2 linked regions of the Homo sapiens genome follow. The protein of the gene in region 2 purifies or fractionates together with the protein of the main gene of each other region. This does not show direct contact. Each region holds a gene or a part of one and is shown on either strand. Other genes may lie near its edges.

Region 1 (3,805 bases), on a different chromosome or scaffold from region 2:
ATTAAGGTCACTTGGGGAGAGAGGGATGTCTCATAATCCCAACTTCCCCTGAACACCTCACACAGCACTCAGCACACAGCTAGGGCTCAAGAAGTACTGGCAGGGATAGAATGAGCCTTGGACTCAGAGGCCAGGCTCCAGCATCTGGCCCTGGCTCTGCCACCAACCCCTGTGTGATCTGGGGAGGCTGCTCCTTCCTCCCTGGGCCTCAGTTTCCTTATCTGTAAAGTGAGGTCAGACAAGGGATGACAAGTCTGCAAGGGATGGCAAATCTTCCTCCACCCAGGGCAGACATAGCCAATCAATCACGAGCCTCGATTTAGCTCAGATCCCTCAGCACAGTGCTCTGGAAAGCCACTGCTGATGGGTTAGAGCTGGCCTGTAAGATGAAAGGTGCTTGCTGTCTGTGGATTTGGTGCTCCCAAAGGGCTTCCTCATCTGGTAAGTTTCCTGAGGTCACATTTTTTTTTTTGAGATGGAATTTCACTATGTTGCCCAGGATAGAGTGCAGTGGTGTGATCTCAGCTCACCACAGCCTCCATCTCCTGGTTCAAGCAATTCTCCTCCCTCAGCCTCCCAAGTAGCTGGGATTACAGGCGTGCACCACCATGCCCAGCTATTTTTTTTTTTTTTTTTTTGTATTTTTAGTAGAAACGGCGGGATTTCACCATATTGGCCAGCCTGGTCTTGAACTCCTGACCTCAGATGATCCACCCACCTCAGCCTCTCAGAGTGCTGGGATTACAGGCAAGAGCCACCTTACCCAGCCTGAGATCACAATTTAATGTAACATTCTCTGAGGCCTACGTGGTGCCTGGCCTTGTTGTGGATCCTGGGGATGTGGAGCTGGTCCACGCCTTAAATGAGCTGAGTCTGCAGGAGGGGAAGGACTTTGGGGCAATGCTATAAGACAAAATAACGGAGGGCATATGGGAGGTACAGAGGCTGCGAGGCCCAGAGGTAGAGGGGATATGGGAACAGAAGCCACGTCAAAACCCGTCTGGAAGGACAATGGATCCACCATTCCATTGCTAGGCAAAACAAGTGGTGGGCACAGAAGGAGTAAAGGCTTAGAGGCTGGAATAAAAAGGGAACAGTGAGCAGTCTGTTAGGCTGGCTCTCAAAAGGACTCTAGAGCGTCCCAGAACAGGGCTGCCCAATGCCCTGTCCAGGGTGCTGAATTCCTTCTAATGAGAACTGAGTGCTGAACTTGGGCCAGGCCAAGGACGGCAGCCAGGGGGTGATGAAGGGCACAAGGCAGCAGGATCTAGATGTAGTCCAGCCACCCCGGTGGTCGTAGGGTTTATTGGGCCACAAGGGAAAGTCACTGGTCCCTGGACTCATCTCCTCCCTCCTCCTCCTCCCCCTCCAGAATGCCATGAAATGCACCTTCTGCTAAGCTGGGTCTGATGGGTATCAATCACTCCTAGTGGCTTTATGTGTTGTGGGCTGGTCACAGGTGGGTACGATATGTGGTATCTGCATTTCCAGGGGGGTCTCAATAGACCACCATGCCTGCAAGGCCCAAAACAATGTGGCAGGTTGGGGAGGAGCTTTAGGAGTGGATGACAGTGATGAGATGCTCCCCTTCCTCTCCCCTCAATTACCATGCTCCTGCCACATCATTCTCCCTGCCTTGTCCTTGTCCTGCCTTCCAGCCAGGCTGAAGGAGGGGCATCGGGGAGGGAGGCCTGGGCATGAGGAAGATGGGTGGCCCAAGGGCAGAACAGGGGAGGGGTTAAAAGGTGGTTTCCGGAGCCCAAGACCCTGAATCACATCACACCCCAGCAGCTGTGTGGCCAGGGTGCATTACTTCCCCTCTCTGAGCCTCAGTTTCTCCATCTGCAAAATGGGGATAATGAGGGTACCTACTTCCCAGTGCTGTTGGGAAGGTCAAGGGTAATAATGTGAGTAAACTGCTTATTAGCACAGTGCCCAGTATAATAAAAATAGCTCACAGTTATTGATGTCTGCTAAACGCTAGGATCTGCTCAAAGCCCTCTACATGCATTTAAGCCACTTCTCACTACAACCCTAAGAGACAAGAGTTCTTATCATTCCTGCTTTAGAGATAAGCAAACTGAGGCACAGGGCAAGTAGAAGACTAGTCTGAGGTCACACAATGGTGAAGATGCAGAACCAAGACTCAAACCAGCATTTGGGTCCCAGAGCCTGAGCACAACACCTTTCTACTCTCCATAGCGGGGAGGGCCCGAGGGGCTGGCTCCAGGGAAGTAGAAGGAACGAGGAGGCCACAAGCACTCCCTTCCTCCCTCCATCCCCAGGTAGGTCTGTGCACCTCCCTTCTCTCTCTCTCTTTTTTTTTTTTTTTTTTTTGACACAGAGTCTTCCTCTGTCGCCCAGGCTGGAGTGCAGTGGTGCGATCTTAGCTCACTGCAAGCTCTGCCTCTCGGGTTCTGGCCATTCTCCTGCCTCAGCCTCCCGAGTAGCTGGGACTACAGGTGCCCACCACCACACCCGGCTAATTTTTTTGTATTTTTAGTAGAGATGGGGTTTCACCATGTTAGCCAGGATGGTCTCAATCTCCTGACCTCGTGATCCGCCCGCCTCGGCCTCCCAAAGTGCTGGGATTACAGGCATGAGCCAGTGCGCCCGGCCACCTCCCTTCTCTTTAAGTCCAGGATGATGAGCAGGGCCCTGGGGGCAGACACCTCAGCCCTGTCCCATAGCTGGGTCACTGGGGAAGTCACTGGATCCCCAAGAGCTTCACTTGCCTCCTCTGTAAAATGGAACAACACTTAGAGCCTCTATTGGACACAGCCTCTCTTCCGGCAGCTCCATGTCTGGCTTGTCTTTATATTCCCAGAGCCCAGCCTAGCACACGGTAGGTACTTAATGTGTGCTGAATATGCAGAGCAGGAGAATGAGCAGGAGAATGAAAGAGCCCAGTGTGGAGTGGGTGCTTCTGGAAGGGTGGCCCTCCCCCAGCCAGCCCTCCCTGCCAGCCCTGCCTACCTTGTCGTTGATCAGCAGCTCCATGGGCTCATGGCCCGCCTCTAGCAGTACAATCTCGTTGGCCTGCCCGGGCACTGAGTAGGAGAAGGGGGTGCCCTGGCCGGTGCCGCTGGACCTGGACCGCAGCCACATGCAGGCGGTGAATGCGTAGAGCTCGGGCAGAGCCTTCCGCACGCGGGCGTACATGTAGTTGTTACGGATGGGGATGCTGATCTTGAAGGCATCTGGAGGACTGTAGGCTGAGGACCCTGAGGGTGGGCAAGGCAGACATGGTGGAGGTCGGTGGACACCGAAAAGGGTGGGGTGGACAGGGCACACTTCAGAAAGATGGCTAACAGCTCCCAGGCACCTGCTGCATGCCCAGTGCCTTCAGGGCTCTCTCTGCTCCACCTCTGTGTTGAGGGGTGTGATTAAAGTGCAGGGGCTCTGGACCTTAGATGTCCTGAGACCAAATCTCGTCTCCCCCACTTCCCAGCCACGTGACCGTCAACAAATTAAACTTGTTGGGAGACCCGGGGTAGACAGGCCAGAGGCAGGGCTGAGGAGGGCTGGAGGTTGCTTCTCCTGTTCCTGTGCTCCACCTAGGATGCTGGCCCTGAGCCACCAGACCTGTCCCTCCCCTGCAGCTGTGCCCCTGCGATGGCCCCTCCATTCTGAAATTTGCTCCTCACCACTGTTTTCAAGAAGTAGCTTGAGGCCTGCCTCCTCCAGGAAGCAGCTTGGATATTCTTTCTTTTCTTTTCTTTTTCTTTTTTTCTTTCTTTTTTTTTTTTTTTTTGAGACGGAGTTTCCCTCTGTTGCCCAGCTCACTGCGACCTTCACCTCCCAG
Region 2 (4,497 bases):
GTGCAGCATTGGCCAGCGTCAGGATGGCACCTGTCGGGAACTCTTTCCCGATGGCAAGGTTTGCAACTTCCCCGGGAACCAGCGCCCGATCCCAGATAGCCAAGCCAGACATGCTCCCCACGAAGGCCTCGGAGCTGTCGAATCCGCCCCCCACGCTGTCTTGTTCCTGGCCCAGCACGAGGGACCCTCCGGGGGGGATCTCATAGCCCTCCCTGAAGCGGGAGCCGGTGGCCACCAGCCTGCGATCCACGTGGAGCCAGTACCTGCCCTGGGTGGACGTCCAGATGACACAGATGTGGTGCCACTGGCCGTCCAGCAGCAGCTGCAAGGGCAGCTCCCTGAAGGCCGGGTCCCCGATCACGAAGTGGATGGATCCGGGCAGCAGGGAGTCTCGGCCGTGCAGCACCAGCTTGTTGTCATTGTCCTCGGTGGCGTAGGACAGGAGGGTGCCCAGGCGGCCGGAGGCCGTGCGGACCCAGCTGCAGAAGGACAGGGCTCGCAGGGCAGTGACGAAACCAGGGCTGAGGAAGACCACGTTCCTGGTGGAGGCGTTTGGGAAAACGAGGGTGGGGCCCACGCCGCAAACTAGAAACAGAGGAGGGAGGGTCAACCCCTTGCAGGAGGCCGAGCAGAAGCATCCAGAAGCACACGTGCTGTGGGTGCCTGGCCTCCCACTCCCGGCTGCCACCCTTCACGGAGCACTGACTCTGCGCTGGCCCTGCCGATGGCTCCCCTGCAGCGTCTCCTTCACTCTCTTGATGGGATCACCCCAGTTCCACAGGCGGGAAGACTGAACATGAGGGCCGTACTCGGGAGTGGCGGGGTCCTGCTAGGAGCCCTAGCTGTCGGCCCACCCAGCTGAGCCAGCGCCCCTCACTGCCAGGGAGTCTCTGCAAATTTCATGACTCACAACAGCGCAGGTTTAGTGTTTCACATTTCTGGCGGTCACAAGGCCAACACGGTCTCCCAGGGCTCAAATCAGGTGTGGACAGGGCTGGTTCCTCTGGAGGCTCCAGGAGAAACCATCTCCCGCCCTTTCCAGCTTCCAGAGGCGCCTGCACCCTTCGGCGTGGGGCCTCCTCGTCTGTGCATCCCGCCACCTCTGCTTCTGCCCTCACGCCCTCCTCTGACTGTGTTCCTCCTGCCTCCCCTTAGAAAGCCTCTGTGATGACGGTGGGCCACCCCCCCCGATGATCCGAGACCCTCTCCCCATCTCCCGGCCCCTAACTGAACCTCTTTTGAGAAGCCTTTTCCAGGGGGCCTGGTCTAAGGAGGAGCTGGAGGGAAGCCTGGCCGTGAGCTGGGAGCCTGTGGTACTTACTCTCTCCTGGCACCTGGGGGGACCATGCCTGCTGCCGAGGGTCTTTTGGGGCAGTCCCACTGAGTACCCGATGGCTGCCTGAGGCTGGAGGCTCCCGCCTCCCTTGGAGAGGGGCCGAGGAGTCCTGTGGGGGGCCCCTGTGCTCAGAGGCAGCTCGGAGCTCCTGCCTGTCCCTCTGAAGCTTCAGGGAGGTCGGGCCCAGCTCCTCAGGCTGGGTTGGGGTTGGGACCAGGGCCGGCCCGAGGGCTGCAGTGCCAGGGTGGGCCACGGGCAGCCGCCCCTCCAGAGCAGCCAGCCTGGCGCCCTGGCTGTGGACGAGGCCCTCCAGGCGTGCCAGTGAGTCCTGCAGGGCGTCCCTCTGGGCCTTGTGTGCCTTCCTTTCCCGGGCCCGCTGCTGGCTCCTCTCGCCCAGGGTGAGGTCCAAGGCCCGCAGCCGCGTGTCTACTTTCCGGCCTCGGCGCTGCAGCTTCCTCACCCAGGCCTTGAGCTGCGCCAGCTCCCCCTGCACCGAGGCCTGTGACCGGTTGACTGCCTGAGCCACAGCCTGGCTCTCTTCCGCCAGGCTCCGGAACCGGACGTCAACGTTGTAGGACACGTTGTAGTTGCTGGCGATGTTCTGCAGGTGTGTCCAGGTCACCTCCTGGAATCTCCGGAACTGTAAGGAGGACACGGTGATGATGGGGCGGGCCGGGCCGGGCCGGCTGGGCGGGACGGGAAAGGCTTTGCCCTCTCAAGTTGGGAGCAGCGGCCGCGTGCCCGGGCCACGGCCAGCACTGGCTATCTGCCCACCGATTTGATCCCCACTGCGATGCCGTGAGATGTGGTGGGTGCCAGGGACTGACCCCAGGCCATGCAGCTGCACCACGTGGGGTGTGGACTCCAGGCCCACAGCTGGGGCTCTGATCCCCACCGCTCACCCCATAACCACCGGCAAGTCACTTTCCCTCGTGATTCCAGCTCCTGCCTGTGAGCAGGGGACGGCAGGGTGGCCTCATGAGTGCTTTACGAGGCCCAAACAGGAAGCACCCAGCGCAGGCCCGACAGGCCCACAGCACTCCGGAACTGTCCGTGGACCCCGCGTGGGAGTCCGGGAGGCCGTTCACACCGACTGCCACAAGGTGGACCTGTGACCTCCCAGTTTCCACTCCCCATGACACTACCCGGCCCCCATGGCCCCCAGTTCCCCTGACTCCCTTCCAGACCCCCTTCTAGCCTCTGGCCCCACCTGACCCCCACATGTTATGAGGCTTGTGTCCTGTGTGAGTGGAGCCCAGCTCAGCTCTTCCCTGGTGTCCAACTGCAGGTGAAATAATCTTCATGGATGGAAAGAGCGTCACACGCGGTGTTCGTGTCCGCCAAGCCCTGATGTTTACCAATCTGCTTCTGTAACATCCGTCTTCCATCTGCTGCCAATTTAAAAACCCGACTGCGCCATGTCAGGGGTATAACTTGCCTGTTCCTCCAGCCTACGGAGCCTCTCGAAAAACGGTTTCCTGGGCCCCACTGGGGCGGCTTCCTGCGATGAAGCCCCATGTAGATATATAGGCACAAAAACAAGGAAGAAAGACAAGGTCTTCCTCCACGAGCAACCCATCCGGAGAGACGGCAAGGCCCCAGCAGTCTCCCTCCAGCCGCAGGAGAGGGTGAAGGTGGCTCCGTGGGTCTGTCTTGTGTCTCGTCCCCCCAGCTCTCCTGTTGAGTGGTTTTCCTTCTTTGGCCCTGGCTGGATGTCAGGTTCTTCCTGCCGCCTCCATGAAAGGCATCTGCCTTCAAGCCAGTGGGCTCTGAGACTTGCAGGTTCCTAAGGAGACAAGCTTAAAACAGATGCAAACAGTTTCTTTGAAGAATCATTCAGCTGGGTGCAAGCCCGCGGGCAGGAGGCGATGGCTTTAACAGGAGCACATGGACTTGTGCTCCCGAGAAGTCGAAGCAAGACAGGGAACCCGACGGGGGCTGGGGAGTCAACAGAGCCAGGTCTGCACAGGCACCCATCACCCAGGCCGTGCACGGCTGCATCCTGGGAGGCCCCGTCTCTCTCAGTAAAGCAATGGAAATGTGACTGGGAGCCACCTTAATTAATTAATTATTATTATTATTTGAGATGGAGTCTCGTTCTGTTGCCTAGGCTAGAGTGCAATGGCGCAATCTCAGCTCACTGCAACCTCTGCCTCCCCGGCTCAAGCGATTCTCCTTCCTCAGCCTCCTGCCTCCTGAGGAGCTGGGATTACAGGCGTGCTTTACCATGCCCGGCTAATTTTAGTATTTTTAGTAGAGATGGGGTTTCACTATGTTGGTCAGGCTGGTCTCAAACTTCTGACCTCATGATTTGCCTGCCTCAGCCTCCCTAAGTGTTCGGATTACAGGCATGAGCCACTGCGCCTGGCCAATTAATTAATTTTTTTGACGGAGTCTTGCTCTGTCACCCAGGCTGGAGTGCAGTGGTGCGATCTCCGCTCACCACAAGCTCCGCCTCCTGGGTTTAACGGATTCTCCTGTCTCAGCCTCCCAAGTAGCTGGGATTACAGGTATGTGCCCCCACATCCGGCTAATTTTTGTATTTTTAGTAGAGACGGGGTTTCACCATGTGGGCCAGGCTGGTCTCAAACTCCCGACCTCAGGTGATCCACCCGCTGTAGCCTCCCGAAATGCTGGGATTACAGGCATGAGCCACCGCGCCCGGCCAATTTTTGTATTTGTAGTAGAGACGGGGTTGCCCCATGTGGGCCAGGCTGGTATTTTTGGTTACAGGTTGTGTACTGGCTTGAATGAGACCCTCCTAAAAACACACATAAGCCCCAGGCAGGGCCTTATGTGGAAAAGGTCTCTGCGGATGTCATGAAGGATTTTGAGATGAGACCATCCTGGATTATCCAGGTGGCCCTAAAGCCAATGACAGGGGTACAAGAGACAGAGGAGGAGGCACAGAGGACACGGCCTGTGAAGATGGGGCAGAGACTGGGGTGACGCTGCCACGAGGAACCCCCAGAGGCCCCAGAAGCTGGAAGAGGTAAAGTGGGAACCCCCAGCCCAGAGCCTTCGAGGGAGTGTGCACCTTCACTTCAAGACTTCCAGCCCCCAGAACTGTGATAGGACTCATTTCTGTTGTTTCAAGCCGCCCAGCTCATGGGAATAAGATCATCCACAAAGTTGTCCCACTGGGGGCATCCATCATTCCC

What was found.
Region 1: the proteins of PTX4 (region 2) and NPTXR purify together in Homo sapiens (affinity purification with mass spectrometry; one large-scale study listed by BioGRID and IntAct). This does not show direct contact.

The regions. Positions count from the first base shown.
Region 1 is NC_000022.11:38,823,524-38,827,328, forward strand, and holds part of NPTXR (neuronal pentraxin receptor precursor), read right to left. Parts: intron 3,225-3,805; coding exon 2,977-3,224; intron 1-2,976. UniProt on the Homo sapiens protein: May be involved in mediating uptake of synaptic material during synapse remodeling or in mediating the synaptic clustering of AMPA glutamate receptors at a subset of excitatory synapses.
Region 2 is NC_000016.10:1,485,995-1,490,491, forward strand, and holds the start of PTX4 (pentraxin-4 isoform 1 precursor), read right to left. Parts: upstream 2,951-4,497; 5' UTR 2,916-2,950; coding exon 2,775-2,915; intron 2,474-2,774; coding exon of another isoform or gene 2,348-2,473; intron 1,977-2,347; coding exon 1,322-1,976; intron 586-1,321; coding exon 1-585.